Regions from separate parts of the Homo sapiens genome. Here region 2 is linked to region 1. The links come from fine-mapping of genetic effects on gene expression. Tissue or cell type: transverse colon. Region 1 holds a variant in brackets; the other region holds the start of a gene. All regions are shown on one strand. Distances are from middle to middle.

Region 1 (8,090 bases):
GCCTGGAAGGGAGATGTATGTATGTATAGATGGAGGGATACAAGGGAGCGGGAGACTGGTGTATAGATGAGACTGGTGTATAGATGAGTGGATGGTGGCACTCACAGACTAAGAAGTCCCACTGGCTGTCATTGGTGCTGGGAGAAGGTATGTGGGGTATCTGAGCAGAAAGGTACCAAGATCCCCTATGGCCTTTCTACCTTGGCCCAGGTGGAACTGGAGCAGACAGCCAGACAGGGCAGCTGAGGCTAGGTTTTGAGCCCCTCTCCCTGCCCCAGGAGGTTCCAAGTGAGGGAGACCTACCTGGGAATCGCTGTCACCACACTGCCTGGGACATTCCGGGGCTCTCTGTGGGTCCTGAGAGCAGGATCGCTGCTCACTTACCTTGGCTGCCTGGTGCCCAGCCCAGCCTGGGTGCTCAGAAAATCTCAGCTGTCTGAGTAAGCCCGGCCTCCGCTCAGCTGCTGGTTCCCATCCTGAGCTGCACCTGGGCAAGTAGGACGTGTTTGTTGTGATTGACAAGTAGGGGCAGGACTTCCCATCTGCCTGCTTCCCTGCGGCAGGTTGGCTGAGCCAAGCTGAGACACTGAGTGGGCAGACACTCAGCGGCTGGGTTTTAGGATCGGTTCCACCTGGCTTAAGGACGGCATTGCTGATTGTTAGCTCTGTGACCTGGGCCAAAACGCCAGCCTCTCTGAAGCCAGCTGCCCTGTGTGTAAGATGGCCAAGGTCATGAGCCGAGCCAGGGGCCAGGTGAGGGAGGGGCTGGCCCAGCCTGGCTGCATCCTTGGAGCCCCTCCCCACTCTGACTTCAGGACTGGGGGCACAGAGGGGGCTCTGGGGTGGTGGACAGAAGCCCCCAGGACCACAGACACCCTGGGCCCCCAGCCCACTCCTGAAGCCACAGCAGGAAAGTCTCTGTGTGTCTGAGGCCCCCCCCAGCAAAGCCCAGGACCATGGGAGAAATCGAGGCCTTTGTCCCGGGCTTGGCAGGATGCCACTGGCCTGCCCTGAGGCAGCAGGAAGCAGCCCCAGAAAATTGGGAAAGGAGGAAAATTGACCAGTAGTTTTTAAGGAGCTCGCCCTTGGGAAGTGGACACAAGATGAGAAGCTGGAGGGGATGCTCTGCCAACCCTTGTCAGGTCACGATTACAGGTCGAGGCCTTCCACTCCCTGAGCCATGATTTTCTCATCTGTAAAATGGGCTGAGACCTCAGTGGATCTGGCGCCGTCAACTTCAAGTGCCTGCAAAGGCGTGACTGCAATCAGTTACCCTCTGCTTGGCCCAGCACTACTAGGTGTAGGGCTGGTGGGGAGCAGGACAGAGGGGACCGCCTGTTGTCCTCTCTCCTTCCAGGGGAGGAAACAAGAAACTCGCTTCTGAACCCACAGGGGAAAGGCAGGTCTGCCAGTGGGCGGGGCTGGGAGAGCGAGGCAGGTGGGTGTCAGGGCCTGGCTGTGGGGCCTCCCTCTTTTGTGAAGCAGCAAGGAAGCTCCCACTGGGAATGCAACGTCTTGGGCTGGGCGTGGACGCAGGTGTGCCTGGCTGTGAGCGCCCAGAGCTCCCTCTCTTGCTGGGGTGCATGTGGGTGCAACTGAAACTGTTGGGGCACCCAAGCTTCAGGCGGGCTTAACCAGAGGCGAGGCGCTCCTGGGACCCTTAGATGGATGGCAGGCCAGGCTCCCGGACTGCCCAACACCGTGCCAGCCACTCCCTGGTGCTCAGCGGCCACCTGGTCTCACCCCCGTGCATCTTCTCCATGGAAGCTCTAGACCCCTCCCCACCACAAAGTGCTGTCACGTGGGAGGGAAATGCGGGAGGGAAAACCTGTGTCTACACGTGGGTCTGCCTGGCTGCAGCCAGGGTCTCACAGAACCTGGGGTGGGGGTTCTGAGAAGGACATCTTCCGAGGGTGGTGATGAGCCTCTCTGACCAGGGCTCCGTCCAGCCCTACTGCCCGGCGTGGAAAGGGCTGGCACCAGCCAAAGCCATTCGCCTGAGCTGGGCTGTCCTGGCTGACCACCCACCACCAGGCTCCCAGGGCCCAGGCCCTCCTCACCCTGCCTCAGAAGTCCCCTGAGAGGGGGACTTCTTAGCCAGGGGCACCCCCACCATGTGGCTCTGAAGCCCCTTCCGGGGCGGTGACCTCCTGCTGCCCCTCCTTCCTTCCTTCCAGAAGCCCCCGAGCGCCCACAGCATGAAGGAGGAGGCCTTCCTCCGGCGCCGCTTCTCCCTGTGTCCACCTTCCTCCACCCCTCAGAAAGTCGACCCCCGGAAGCTCACCCGGAACTTGCTCCTCAGCGGAGACAATGAGCTCTACCCACTCAGCCCAGGTAAGTGCCGGCCGTGGGCAGGGCAACCTGGCCCTCAGCTTGGGCCCGGTGGGGTGACCCCGGGCGGCCCAACCCCTCTGTGCCCCTTGAGGTCCACAGCTTCCATGCTGGGGACTGTGTGGGTTTCATGATCAAACGGTTTGTAGCTTGGTAGAGTGCCAGGTAATACGGCTTCTTGGCTTGACCTGCGGGGCCAGGTGAAGCCCATCTGGTTGAGGAGGGGGTTCCCACAGCCCAGGCTTTGGGAGTTATGGAGTGCAGTCATCCCAAAGTCAGCCCAGGCTTTGGGAGTTATGGAGTGCAGGCTCCAGGGACAGGTGGCCTGAGCCCCAGTCCTGGCAGGGTAACCCCAGGCCAGCTACTTGACCTCTCTAGGCCTCAGTTGACTGATCTATAAAATGGGACAATATTAGTACCTACTCCCAGCTATACATGGGTCCTGGGCTCTGAGAGGGGACAGCTGGAACCAGGCCTGCCTTCGTGCAATTGTAGATAAAGCACCCAGCACACAGACTCAGAACCTCTGCCCGCCAATGCTGCCACTCTCCAGGCCCCTCCCTGGCACCTAACTATGCACAACCCCTGCCCCAGCCAAGGCTGAGCTGTGACTGCTGTCCCCCAGAAAACCCAGCCCTTCCTCCCCTGTTCCCCTGAGAGTAGGAGGTAGGGGCAGGCACCTGCCTGGGGGACCTCTCCCCAGCTCTGCCCCCTCTCCTCCCACTGCCTGCTTTGGGGCTGAGGAAGTGGGAGCCCCAGCCCTGCCTGGCCATGGTCATCTCATCTGCCCTGGGGGGAGTGGGAGAGCATTGGGCGGATCCACCACCCAGGCTCGAGGGGCGTGTGGTCGCAGCCAAAGTCCCATCCAATAGATGGAAAAACGGAGTCCCAGCGTAGAGGTGGCCTTGCTGAAGGTGCTATGGCAGGCAGGGGCACTCGACACCCGGCAAGGTAAATCCTACACCTTTTATTCTCTGCTGTCACGTTCACCCTGGCCGGAGGCTTAGAAGCACTTGCAGAGTCAGGGGTGGGGAGGGGAAGGGCTGGGTCCCAGCTGCTGGTCAGTTTCAGAGGGACTCGGACCAACTAGCAACTGGCCCAGGCGGTGCAGAAGACGTGCTGGGAAGGGCCTTTTCCGAGGAATGGAGGCGGTAGGTCCCAGGCCAAGGGAGTGGGGTGGGTGTGGACAGGCTGTGAGGAGAAGGACCAGTGCTGACTTCCCCCTGCCCAGGGCACCTGCACCCTATCCCTTTGAGTGGTCCAAGGGCCCCAGCCTTTGAGTCCTCCCGGCCAGGAGGCAGCATCCACATGGAAAGTAGTTTGCTGGCGGCCACAGGCCAAGCCCCTAGAACTATATGAGAAAGTGCCAGAGGGAAGAGCGCTCCTGCTAGCCTCCCCCCAGCACTCCGGGTCAGGGGCGTAGCACTCTGCAGATGGGGAAGCAGAGGCTCCCAGGTGGGGGAGCAGCCACTGCCGGCCAGGGTCAGCGATGTTCTGTGACTGTGAGTGGCCACGGTCCAGGACCTTTGGACAGAACCACTTCCTCAGGCCACCGTCCTGGCTTTTCCGTTCTTCGTCCCCATCCAGTCCCTGCCCAGGGCTGTCAGGGAAGGACGGCTATAGACCCCAGGCCTTCCAGCTGGTCTGTGGCGTCTGTCCACGCACCCAGCCTGTTGCTGGCCTGTCGCCTGTGGCCTTGGCAGGATGGGGTTCACTCCAGCCCCCAGCCCCTCCGAGTCTCAGTGTCAGGGACCGGGGCAGTCAACCCTCGCCCACCAGCCACAGGAAGCAGCGGGAGCGGCCCTGCTGGGCAGACCTCAGGCTTCCCCTGCAGCCATCCCCTCCTTCCTCCTGTCCAGAAATCGTACCTTGGGAAACTGGCACCAAAGCAAACAGAGCCGGGGGAGGGGAGGCCATTTCCCAAAGGAGCAAACGCAGACACCTCAGGTCTCCCTCCTTTGCCTCTCCCTCCTTACCCAGCCTGCCAGGGTGGGATGGCAGACAGGGCTGACCACCTCCCAGCAAGAGCCCAGCACGCAGGGGCCGGCAGCATCCAGCCAGGGGGATGCACAGTCCAGGGGCCCCAAACCTGCCATGTGTCTTTGAGACTGGATGTCACATTCTTTTTCTGAAAACTGGGGACTCTGGCCTTCACAGACCCCCAATTGCACACTACAGCAGGCCCAGGATGCCGGTTCCTACCAGCTCCTGTCCCAGCTTCCTCCCTGTAGGTCCTGGAGGC[C/T]CTGCCAGTTCTCCTGGCACACTCCTCCCACAGTGACGCTTGCTGGCGTTTATTACACCTCTCAGGCAGTGTCCTGTTCCTGCCACCACCTCCGGCTGACTTCCTGCCCCTCCCAGGTCATCCGCACCCACGCTTCGCCTGCCTCACACCAGGCAGCGGCCTGAGAAGCCTGGCCACGCCACCATGCCTGGGTCCTCACTCCCACTGCTCTCTTGCAGGGAAGGACATGGAGCCCAACGGCCCGTCGCTGCCCAGGGATGAAGGGCCCCCGACCCCAAGCTCTGCCACGAAGGTGCCACCGGTAAGAGCCTGGGTATAGGAGGATCCATGAGCCAGAGCCTGGCTCTGGGGACAGCAGGAAACGGCTGGGGAAAAGGACAGCAGGGCGTCCAGCTGAGCCTGCCATTCCAGCCTGTTCGGGGGAAACAGCTCCCAATCCTAGACTGTGCTGCTCCGGGAGGGCTGCTGGTGGATATTTGGGCTGTTTTCACCATATAGCTGTCATGAAAAATGCTTCCGTGAACATGTGTGCACGTGTATTTGACTATCAGTTTTCAGTTCTCTCAGGTATAAACCTAGAGTAATTGGAATTGCTAGGTCACATGGTAATTCCAGGATAATATAGAACTCTCAAAATTGTCTGTTTAACTTTTGGAGGAACTGCCAAACTCCTTTCCCAGCGGCTGCACCATCTTACATGGCCACCCACAGTGCACAAGGGCTCCAGTTCCTCACATCCTCACCAACGCTTGCTATTTTCTGATTTGTTGTTTTCTTTTTTCCTTTTTCTTTGAAATGGAGTCTCCCTCTGTCACCCAGGCTGGAGTGCAGTGGCACAATCTCAGCTCACTGCAAGCTCCGCCTCCCAAGTTCACGCCATTCTCCTGCCTCAGCCTCCCGAGGAGCTGGGACTACAGGTGCCCGCCACCACGGCCGGCCAATTTTTTGTATTTTTTTTTTTTTTTTTTTGAGACGGAGTCTCGCTCTGTCACCCAGGCTGGAGTGCAGTGGCGCGATCTCGGCTCACTGCAAGCTCCGCCTCCCGGGTTCACACCATGCCCCTGCCTCAGCCTCCCGAGTAGCTGGGACTACAGGCGCCCGCCACCACGCCCGGCCAATTTTTTTGTATTTTTAGTAGAGACGGGTTTCACCGTGTTAGCCAGGATGGCCTTGATCTCCTGACCTCATGATCCACCCGCCTCGGCCTCCCAAAGTGCTGGGATTACAGGCGTGATTTGTTCTTTTTTGTGTTATTTTTATAGCTATCCTAGCGGGTATGAAGTAGCATCTCACTGCGGCTTCAGTTTGCATCTCTAATGACGGATAACATTGAACATCTTCGTGCACCCATTAGCCATTTGTATGTCCTGTTTGGAGAAATGTCTATTCCAGTTATTTGTCCATTTTTGGAATGGGTTGTTTGCCTTTTTGTTGCTGAGCTGCAAGAGTTCTTTATGCATTTTGGATACTAGGTCCTTATCCGATACATGATTTGCGACTACTTCCTCCCATTCCGTAGGTGGTTCTAAATTATATTTTTAAGGAATTTTCATAGGTTGCAAAGTTCTGGTCAGCCTGAAGTTCACAGTTCTGAGCAGCACTTCTCATCTCTCAGGTGCCTCCTTATGGCACTGTCACTGATGCACAGTAGCACTGAGGAGTGAGCAGAGGACCTGGCATGCCTGGACGGGGTACCCACCTGGCCTGCAGGAGGGAGGAGTGGGCAGGCACTCTCTGCAGTGCTGGGGCTGCAGGGGCTGCAGTGACCAGACCCAAGGGTCCTGCCCAGTTGGGGAGCAGGGGTTGCAAGTGCTCCATCCCATGCCATGCGGTCTTGCCTCTCTCTTCCCCTGTTGCCTCAAATACACACAGCCCCATTCAGCTGCATCTAGTGGGAAGCTGGGCAGAGGGGAATTGGCAGCAGGTTCATGCGTCCATCCATCCATCCATCCATCCATCCATTCATCCATTCATTCATTCGAGATGCTTGCTAAGCCCCCAGCTGCCGGTGTGAATGGGCAGTAGGGTAGAACCCTCCCCTGGTGGAAGCCACAGACAATCATCAGTTCACCACAGAAACGGCTGCGTGGTTGTATTGCAAAAGTCCTGGGCGGGCCAAGGGTGGTGTGTGTCACCAGGACCTGTGCCAGCAGGGATATGAGCTGTCCTGCTTCTGGGGAAGCAGCTCAGGGAGCCTGAGAAAGAAAGGAGCAGGGGCTACCCAGCCACAGGGAAAAGCATTCCAGGCTGGGAACACCATGTGCCAAGGTAACTAAGGGCATCATGAACAAGATCCTGGCTCAGGGGACTCCCAGGAGGGCAACTTAGGACACCTTCTCTGCCAGCCTGGGTCCCTGGAGGCCTGTCAACTGGCCAGGGTCCAGCATATGCCTCGTCACTCAGATCTGCCTCCTCCTTATCACTCATCGTCAGCCCAAAGACTGCTTCCAAGTCAGAGCCCCCCAGGCACCCCATCTTGTGCCGTTTTCTTCTTGTGATCCTGAATGCTCTTACTTGGCTAAGAAAGTGCCACAATGGAGCAACACTGCCTGGGTTCAGTCCCAGCTCAGCTCCTTATTAGCTGTGTGACCTTGGGCAGGTTTCTGAACCTCTCTGTGCGTAGGCTCTTCCTCTGTACAATGCTGAGAATAACAACGATGACCTGAGCTGTGGGATCTAACGTGCTTACATCCATGCACAGAACGCAGAACCGCAGCGCTCACCTGACCCCTGGCTCCTCCCGCCTCTGCGTGCTGGTGGCTGGTCTGCCTCTCCCTGAAAGAGCAGGACACTGGCATCTTTACTTTCTAACCTCAGTGCCTAAGGCCAAGCCTGGTGCCCAGTGCTGCCAGGACCGCCAGTCCGTGGAACGGTTCCATGCCCTGCCCCTTGCTAGCTCTCCACCTCTCTGTGCCTTGATTTCCCAGGCACAGAAATAAAATAGGGACAATAACCGGCCCCACCTTATGCATGGCTGGAGAATGAGGGGGATGAATACAGGCAGCACCCGAACAGGACCTGGTGCCCCAGCAGACAAGGCTTTAGCTCTGTACTTAGCACCATCATGATTGGGGTGGGGGCAGTCCCCAGCGCCCAGGGCTTCTAGCCAGGAGAAGGCCTGAGGGAGGCTTTCCTCGCCCTAGAGGCTCCGCTGGAAAGTGCTGAGCACCCGCAGACGCCCAGCCAGAGCAGGGCAGGGCGGGCACGCTTTCTCTGGAAAAGGCCAGACGGCATTTAGGCCCCGCCGCGGCGCAGGCTCCGTTCCAGGTACTCAGCACAGCCATCCAAGCACGAGAACAGCCACAGACAACGCCTGCCGGATCGCCTGGCCATGTGCCAAGAAAACCTTATTTATGGACTCCTCATTTGAATTTCATATAATTTTCACATCTCACAAATTATTCTTGTGATTTTTTTTCAACTGATTAAAACTGTGGAAGCTGTTCTTAGCTTGCAGACCACGCGGAAGGAGGCAGCAGGCAGGATTCGGGTCGTAGCTTGCTGTCCCCAGCCTGCA
Region 2 (8,090 bases), 38 kb before region 1:
GGCAGCCGTGTCCAGCCCCGAAGGAGGGAACAGCGGGGAGAGCCTGCCTCCTGTAACCGGAACGCTAGCTTGGCTTCCAGTCCTGCCTGGGACGCTCCCCAGTGGCCAGCCTGGAGCTGGTGGCTTCACCTCCTTGACTTTCCACTTCGGCGTCTGTAAGCTGGGGATACTGATAACCACAGGCTTGCCGGCAGTGCGGGGGATGCAATCCGGTCACGTGAAGTTGAGGACGTAGTGCCAGGCGCATGGCAAACGGTCCATACATGCTGCGATGTTTTCATGATTAGCTTTGTGCTGTGGAGACTATCTGGACGCTTTGAGTTTCACTGACGCCCCACCGCCTACGGGAGATGGAATCTCCTCCCCCTGCCCGGAAAGGAAACAGAATGGGCTCCCACCAGAGACCACACCTGGCGGTGGATGTGCCTTCAGGGCAGCAGGGAGGGCAGCAGAGCCCAGGCTCACCCCTGGGTCTCCCCACTGCAGCCCAGGGAAACCGGGCAGGTGTCCCACTAGGAGTCGGAGACCCACCAAAGTCCAGGTGCACCCCTTACTACTGGGGCCTCGGTTTCCTCATCTGTCTAATGGAGAGAAGTGGTTATTGCTACCTCAGAAGACTGAAAAGGGCCGGGCGCGGTGGCTCATGCCCGTAATCCCAGCACTTTGGGAGTCCGAGGAGGGTCGATCACAAGGTCAGGAGTTCAAGACCAGCCTGGCCAAGATGGTGAAACCCCATCTCTACAAAAAATACAAAAAGTAGCCGGGTGTGGTGGCGGGCACCTGTAATCTCAGCTACTCAGGAGCCTGAGGCAGGAGAATCGCTTGAACTTGGAGAGCGGAGGTTGCAGTGAGCCGAGGTTGTGCCACTGCACTCCATCCTGAGCGACAGAGTGAGACTCCGTCTCAAAAAAAAAAAAAAAAAAAAAAAAAAAAAGGCTGTAAAGGACCAAAGGAGATAACCGATGACAGTTTGCCGGCCCTGACCTGCTTAAGGTCTCTCCCTAGGGGGCCACACCCAGCCCCACTGGCTCCTGTAGTGGCTGAAGCCCTGAGCAAGGCTTCCCCGGTTGGTGGCACCTTCTCTGGATTGGGCCCAGCGCTGTTCCCACATGTCCTGGCCACCCCAGCCCTTCCCAGGGAGGCAGCCAGATGTAGCAGAAGGGGCAGGGGCTTTTGCGGGGGGGTTTCCTCTGAGCCGGTGGGTCTTCATTATGAACCAGGTGGCAGAGCACGGCAGATCAGAGCACAGTTCTGGAGCCAGAGAGGTTGGTGACTGCCTCGCCTGCTGTGCCTCAGCTTCCCCATCTGTGAAATGGAGCCAATCACGACAGAACCAGCTCATAAAGTTGTGAGGCAGATTAAATGCACCAAGTGTCTAAAGCCCTCAGAAAAGGGTCTGACACGAGAAAGGTGCCCACAGCCATCTTATTCACCCCTCAGTCGGGGTCAGGAGAAGTAGATGAGATGCAAAGAACCTGGGACAGGGTAGGGGCTCCATCAGCAGGAGGCCTTGGGGGCTTAGACCAACCACCCGAAACCAAGGAGTGATGCCAGCAGGTGGACATGTATTCACTTCTGGGGCAGGGATTCTTGACCTCAGCATGACCAGCATTTGGGGCCGGGTCACCCTTTGTGGTGGAGGCTGTCCCGTGCATGACAACGTGTTTAGCAACATCCTCGGCCTCTACCCACTAGACACCAGTAGCAACCTCCAATGACGACGGCCAGAACTATCTCCAGGCAGTGGCAAATGCCACCTGGAAACTGGAGGCAAAACCGCCCCTAGCAGAGAACTGCCATTCTGGAGACTTGGATTGGAACTGCCCTGATTTTAAATTGCACTGTCCTTGCAAAGCATTTTTTAAGTTCTTACTTATCACAGACATATTTTTCTGAATTACCATAAATTCCAAACTAACCAGCTGGGCGCTGCAAGCCGTTCCTTCCCATAGTCCACTCATGGTCCCCAGTGCCCACCAACAGCCAGCGCTTGCAAAGTCTGTTGGCCCACTGGGGACTTATGGCAGCTCATGCAGCGGAAACTGCTCTGGTCATCGCCATTTATAGATGAGGAAACTGAGGCACGGCCAGTTGCACAAACCTGCTCAAGGGCTCCTGGATGGTGGGGCCTACTGGGCGTGCCCCCCTAAAGCTGGTGCCATTGGCACCTGGCTCTGCCCATCTCTGAGACCTCTGACGCCTTCATTTCCTGCGTTGGCCACCAGGCACAGATGCTGTGTCCATCTGACAGGAGAGGAAGCGGGGTCCCAGGAGGAACAAGCCACTGCCTGGTGACAGAGCTTCTTTCTGGCAGCAGCAGGATTCGGACCTACCTCTTGCTGGGGGCAACCTCTTCGGCTCACTGCCTCTCCAAAACCAGGCAAGAGGCTGGAAATGGGGCTTTCTGGAAAAATGCAGAGCCTGCTGGGAAGTGGGGCAGACAACTGACACCTGTCACTGAGCCTGGCAGGTGGCGTGTTCTTCATTTCTTGCATGGCCATCTGGCTGTCAGACACTACCCAGTGAGAGGCTCAACCCTCGTCCTGCTCCACCCCAGCCCCACCCTGCTGTCATCTATGGCCCCTTCCCCCACCCTCAGGTGCCTCTTTGACTTTTGACCTCTGCCCTCAGCAGTGTCATTTCATGAAACCCAGGCCCTGGACAGCCAGCATCAAGCAACTGGCAACCTTCCCTACTGCCGCCCCTGAGACCTCCGCCCTAGGGATAGGGGCTTTGTTTTCTTCCCTAATTCCCTTTGGATTGGCTCCAGCAACCAGCAAGTTACCAGGCAGCAGCACCTCAGCTTTGGGCGGAGTCTTCAAAGAGCAGACCCAGCAGTTGTATGTGGATCCCAGCTGCACAGACCCTCTCCTGCAGAGGCAGAGGCCGCCTGCCACAGGCCACGCGGAGCAGGGTCCCACCATGGCCCTGAGCATCTTGACTGAGCAGTTCTGCATCCCAAGGCCTCACAAGGTGACTATGGAATGGCAATGCTAGCCCTGGGGGTAAGCTTAGGGCAAGTCCGATCAGCCCACTCGCCTCCGTAAGCCGTGGGTTCCTGTGATCCGCACACAAGCGGCTGGTGCTGCTATCCCCAGGAGGATACCCACCAACTTGTCTAACGGGGTGGGCAAGGCCAGGGCTGAGACGGGAAGGGGTCTGGCTTGTTGTGGGCAGAGCACCTGCATGCTGTGCCGTTCCCCCTTCAGGTGCTGGAAGGAGCCTTCCTGGGCCGCTCGCCCTCCGCAGCCCTGCTGGGAGGTCTTGCAGACGCCCATGATAGCCAGGCTTGCGGCCTCCCGAATGCAACTGCAGCGTGAAACCGTAGAAACACACGTGTCAGTGGCAGTTCTGCCTGGGGAGGAGCCCAGGGCTCTCTGCGGAGGGTCAGTTCTGTCCCTGTTAAGGTTCTGTGTGGAAAAGACTCCACGCCCTCTTGGGGTCTACCTACATCTGGGGATGCCCGAGCCCAGCTCCCAGTTTTTCTGGTCATTTGGGGACATACCATAGGAAGGACCTGCAGTGCACCTCAGGCTTGGACACTAGGGATGCAAACGCCCTGGGGCCAGCCCTGGGCCCACACCCAATTTAGGGTCTACAGGCAGGGAGCCAGGGGCCAGGGGAGGACTTCTCAGCTCCCAAGGGGATGCTGTTTAGGGGAATTAGAATGTCTTTTATATACAAGAGAACTGAGGGGTCTAAAAAGGTCTCTGGGGGGTAGAAGAAGGTGAGGAGAAAACACAGGAAGAAATGCACATGAGGGGAGGTTCTTGTCAAAAGGGTCCTGAGAAAGACGTACAGTTAGAGTGTGACTGAGGGTCCTTCTTAGCACATAAGGGGCAGGGACAACGGGCTCAGATGTCTGGGGCTCCTCTTGTGTTCTGATGGCTCCTGAGACGGGGAGAAACGGCGACAGTTTCCTGGGTTCAGGAAGGGAGAGGAGGCGCCTCGCACCCTGGCTAGGGTGGGCTGGGGGCCTGCACCCCTAAGTTGGAGAACCCCACGAAGCTGACCCCACTCACCGCTGCCCACCCCGCCAAGCCTCCTGGCCATTTTCAGCGGAGTGTCCCGACCTCTGGCCGCCCGGGTGGGTGTGAGCCCCGGAGCGCGCGCGGGGGGTTGGGGGATGAGGAGAAGCGGCAGCCGGTGGGGGGCAGCCCCTGGGCGCCCGCTCCGCGCGGCGATTCGGCCCGGGTTTTGCGGCCGCCGCGCCTCCTCCTCCCGCCTCCGGGCTCCCTGGGCCTCCTCCCTCCGCCGCGCCCTCGCTCCGCCTCGCGCGGGGGGACCATCTGCTGGCATTTCCTGCAGCCAGGCCCGCGCCGCCAGTGGAGCCCCCGCGCGCCCGGCCGGCCCGGAGCACCGAGCTCGCGGCACGGTAGGAGGTAGGAGCGCGGCGGCCCGGGGGGCGGCAGGGCGGCGGGGGGATGGCGGGCTGGGAAGGATCCGGAGGGCCCCGCCGGGCAGGGCCGGAGCGAACCGAGGGCCGCGGGGGGCCGGCCGAAGGGATCCAGGAGCTCGCGCCGCAGCCCCGCGGACCCTGGCAGTAGCCAGTGCGGGGAACCACGCCGCGGGGCCGGTCGCGCGCTGGGGAGCTGGGGAGCGCGGGAGCCTGGGGGCGCCCCGGGCCAGGACGGGTCGGCGCCTGGCGGGTTGGGGCGGGTGGGGCCCGCGAGTGGGAAGCGGCGCGCCCAGCTCGGCTCCCCACTTGGTGGGGCTTAAAGGAGCCGGGACCGCCAGGGAAGGTGGCTGGGTCTGACCACCACAAACCCTGGCCAATCAGGGGGTCTGTCCCCCCAGCTCGGCCGACGCGGGCTCCAAGGAGCCAGGTCTTGATGGGTCTGCAGGGGGTCTGGGATCTGAGTCTGGCGTCCCAGCTGCGGGCTTGGGAGGACTGCTGTGTCTGAGTCCGCAGAGTCAGGGGGCTGCCTGGATTACAGGCTAGGGAAGGACCTTGCCCACAGCCCCCATCTCTGGGGCACTGACCCCCTGAAGATGTGGAGCCTTAGGGATTGTTGAGGTGCCTGAGTCCTCAAGAGGGTCTTGTGCACTTGAAGATTCCTCCCGGGGAGCGGGGTGCAGGAGGGTGGGGCAGGCAGGAAGGAGGCTGGAGTCTGCAGCCCCCCGGGCAACAGGCCCGTCCTGGGCTTCCCAGGCACCGCCCCCAACCCCCACCCAGACCGCTGGGCTGCCTCCTGTCAGAAGCCAACTGGAGTTAGGGTTTGGGGTGACTCCTGGGGGTATGGAGGGGTCACAGGGTGGGCTTACCTGCCCCTCCCTCGTCCCTGGGCTGAGCCCAGCCCCTCCCTCATCCTTGGGCTGAGCGGGTCTGCCCCGCCGAAGCGGCTGGGTGGATTTCCTCTCTTGCCGTTTCGCAACTTGCTCCCCTCTGTGTGTCTGCCCCAGTCTCTTCAAGGTGCCTTTTACAGGAAGACTTCTGTAAGGGTCCCACCCCACCTGATACAGCCTCCCAAAGCCTGGAGAAGTGGGCCAGCCTTTGGGATCCTAGATAGATGCTCTTGGGTCTGCCTGCACCAGGGCTGATCCAGATCCCAGACTGAACAGAAACTCTGCTCCCCAACCCCAGGAGTAAGGCCCCTCTGCACGTTTTTATCCCACCTCCTTGGTACACAGGGCCTTGCTGTTCCTTGAACCTGCCAGGTGAGTGGGGGCTTTGCAGGCATCGGGCAGGTTTGTGGCAACCTGGGGTGGCATCATGTGCCCAGCTGCTCCCTTCTGGTCTCAGGCTCCAGAACTGCAGATCCTATTGTCTGCCTGCACGCGTGTGGGGCTGGCCTGGGGTGCCAGGAGGCAGGCACCGCGTGTGTCTGTCTTGCCAGGCTGTGTTTAAGAAAGGTGACACAGCAGATAGGCCGGATGAGGAGCCTCTGACCTGCAGTCCTGGGCCTGGTCTCAGAGAGGCTGCCCTGCAGATGTCGAACCCCGGGCAGCCATCCTGCATGTCCAGTGGAGGCTCCTTTCTGGGTCCAGATTGGGCCATGAATAGGCCATGTTCTTCAAAGGACTGCTTTCAGCTCTTTACAGAATACCAACGCAAGACCGCCCCCCCCACCCAACCCCTACCCAGGATTGTATTTACTATGCTGAGAATGCCTGGTATCAGTTTCTCTCCTGAGATCCTGGCCTCACTCTGAGCGCTGATAGTAATCTGACATGTAACGCTTGGGGGAGGGAGAAACACTCTGTGACAAGCCGGCGGGTGGAAGGGCTGTGTGTGTCTCTGCCAGCTGTGTTTTGGGGACTGGTGCTCTCTGCTGATTCTGTGGTTAAGCCTGCACACGTTTGCACACATACAGGCACAGTGTGCAGGTGGAAAACTTACCCAAGATGACAGAAGGTGCCCCCCGCCCCCATTCCCATTTATTGTTCAAGGGACAGGTGAATCTGAGCCTGTGACCGCAGCTGAGAAATGTTGTGGACCCAGCTCAGGGTTCTCCCGGAGAGGCCTGGGGAGCTGGAAGCTCTGACCTCCGGGACAGGGGGTTGTAGAGGGGCCGAGGCCCAGGGTTGCACAGTGCCAAAAGGATCCCGGTCATTTTGACAGGAAGGGAGCTGTCGGGGAGGGAGCCGTTAGGTGCAGCTCCCCTTGTGGAGTCCAAGGGCCAGGTGGGTAGAAGTGCCCACCACTTGCAGGGTTGGCAGGGGAGCCCAGGGAGTGCACCAGTGTGCTGGGGGGTAGATGTTGGGGGGTACAAGTGAGGGCCACTGGCCTCCCGACAGGGACAGGCATGCTGCCCTGGATGTCCTCATGCTGCTTGTGACCGGCACAAAGGAAAAGAATATTGTTCTCGATGCCAGCTTTGCTTGATGACTTACCGAGCCTGCAGCTTGAGGAGGCAACTGACAGCCTGAGGATGGGGCTCCTGGGCTGGTCAAGATTTTTAAAGGTTTTGGGGCCTTGGTGGCTGGGTCTTGGCCACGGCTGGGTAACCTTTCCCGTGGAGATGTATGGGCAGATAGTGAAGCTGCTCCGGAGAGTGGTAGGGTTGGCGGTCGAGTACAAAGGACTTGGACTAAGGACCGCGTTGTTCTCTTAGCATCACAGTTGTTCTGAGCCAGGGCCTCTGGGATCATGTCCACGAGGATGTGAGATTGCCTTGTGCTGGCATCTACACTAAGCGGAGTGGGCACCAGCTGTGTCCTCAGGACCAGGGCTTGAGGTGGGAGATGGGGAGGGGGTGGGACATGAGCCTTCTTGGCTGGCTTAGAGGGATCCAGAATTCCTAGAGGGCCTTTGTTGCAAATCTCAGAGCCACCCAGGCTGAGAGCAAATGCTTTGCTCGGCCTCCCAGCCCACCTCACATCCGGCTACTCCCTCCAGGGCTGGCCTCCACTCCCCTCCTGGCCCTACCAGCTCTTGCCTGGAGCTCCACATCAGCTACCTAGTAGGCTCCCCTTTCGTGGCCTTCCTAGCCCTTCTCCAGCCAGCAGCCAGCATGGTGTTTAAAAAGATAAACCACTTCATGTAATTTGACCACTTAGAGCCCTTTGAGATTTGCCATGGGTCTCAGTAAGTCCTGACCCCTTTCCAGACCCCACAGGCCCTAGATGCCCCTCCACTCTGTCTCCCTTCCCTTGTTCTCCTCTCCCCCTCCCCTCCCCTCCCTCTCCCCTCCTTGCTCACAGGGGTCTGGCGTCAGCCCCGGCTTCTTACTCCAGGGCCTTTGCACTGCCTGTGCCTCTGCTTTCGGCCCCTCCTTGGATCTGCATTTGGTGGGCTCCATCTAATTCAGGTCCCAGCTCAGATGCTGCCTCTCTGAGAGAGTCTCTGTTCCTGGCCCGTTACCCATTCCAAAGCAGCTCTCAGCTCTGTGTTTTGTTTTCTCTTTATTTATACTGAAATGGTCATGTTTGTTTAATTGAATGGCTTCCTATGGAGAAAGCGATTGGGCCAAGCCAGGTTCATGGTGGGCGCCGCTGGTGCGTGGCATCTGTCCCTGGTGGGTGCCGCTGGTGCGCGGTGTCTGTCCCCATGCACGGTTGCCTGCAAGTCTGCTCCGGGCTCTCTTCCCAGGGGCTGGCACACAGTAGGTGTTCTACGGTTAAGTGAGGCACATGTGGAAAGCCGTCAT

What was found. PIP is the estimated chance that this variant, and not a neighbour inherited with it, causes the effect.
Region 2: OSBPL5 starts here. The variant in region 1 is fine-mapped to the expression of OSBPL5 in transverse colon (GTEx, PIP 0.97).

The regions. Positions count from the first base shown.
Region 1 is chr11:3,123,257-3,131,346 of GRCh38, reverse strand. It overlaps OSBPL5 (oxysterol binding protein like 5), which reads left to right. Exons shown (of 22, transcript NM_020896.4): 2 at 2,178-2,334; 3 at 4,792-4,874. The coding sequence starts at 2,199. Among named protein-coding and RNA genes, the nearest start is that of OSBPL5, 38 kb to the left of the region's middle. RefSeq lists a silencer at 6,614-6,908. The variant C/T (reference allele first, on the strand shown) is at 4,574.
Region 2 is chr11:3,161,508-3,169,597 of GRCh38, reverse strand. It overlaps OSBPL5 (oxysterol binding protein like 5), which reads left to right and starts at 4,288. Exons shown (of 22, transcript NM_020896.4): 1 at 4,288-4,382. RefSeq lists enhancers at 3,094-3,806, 5,550-6,243.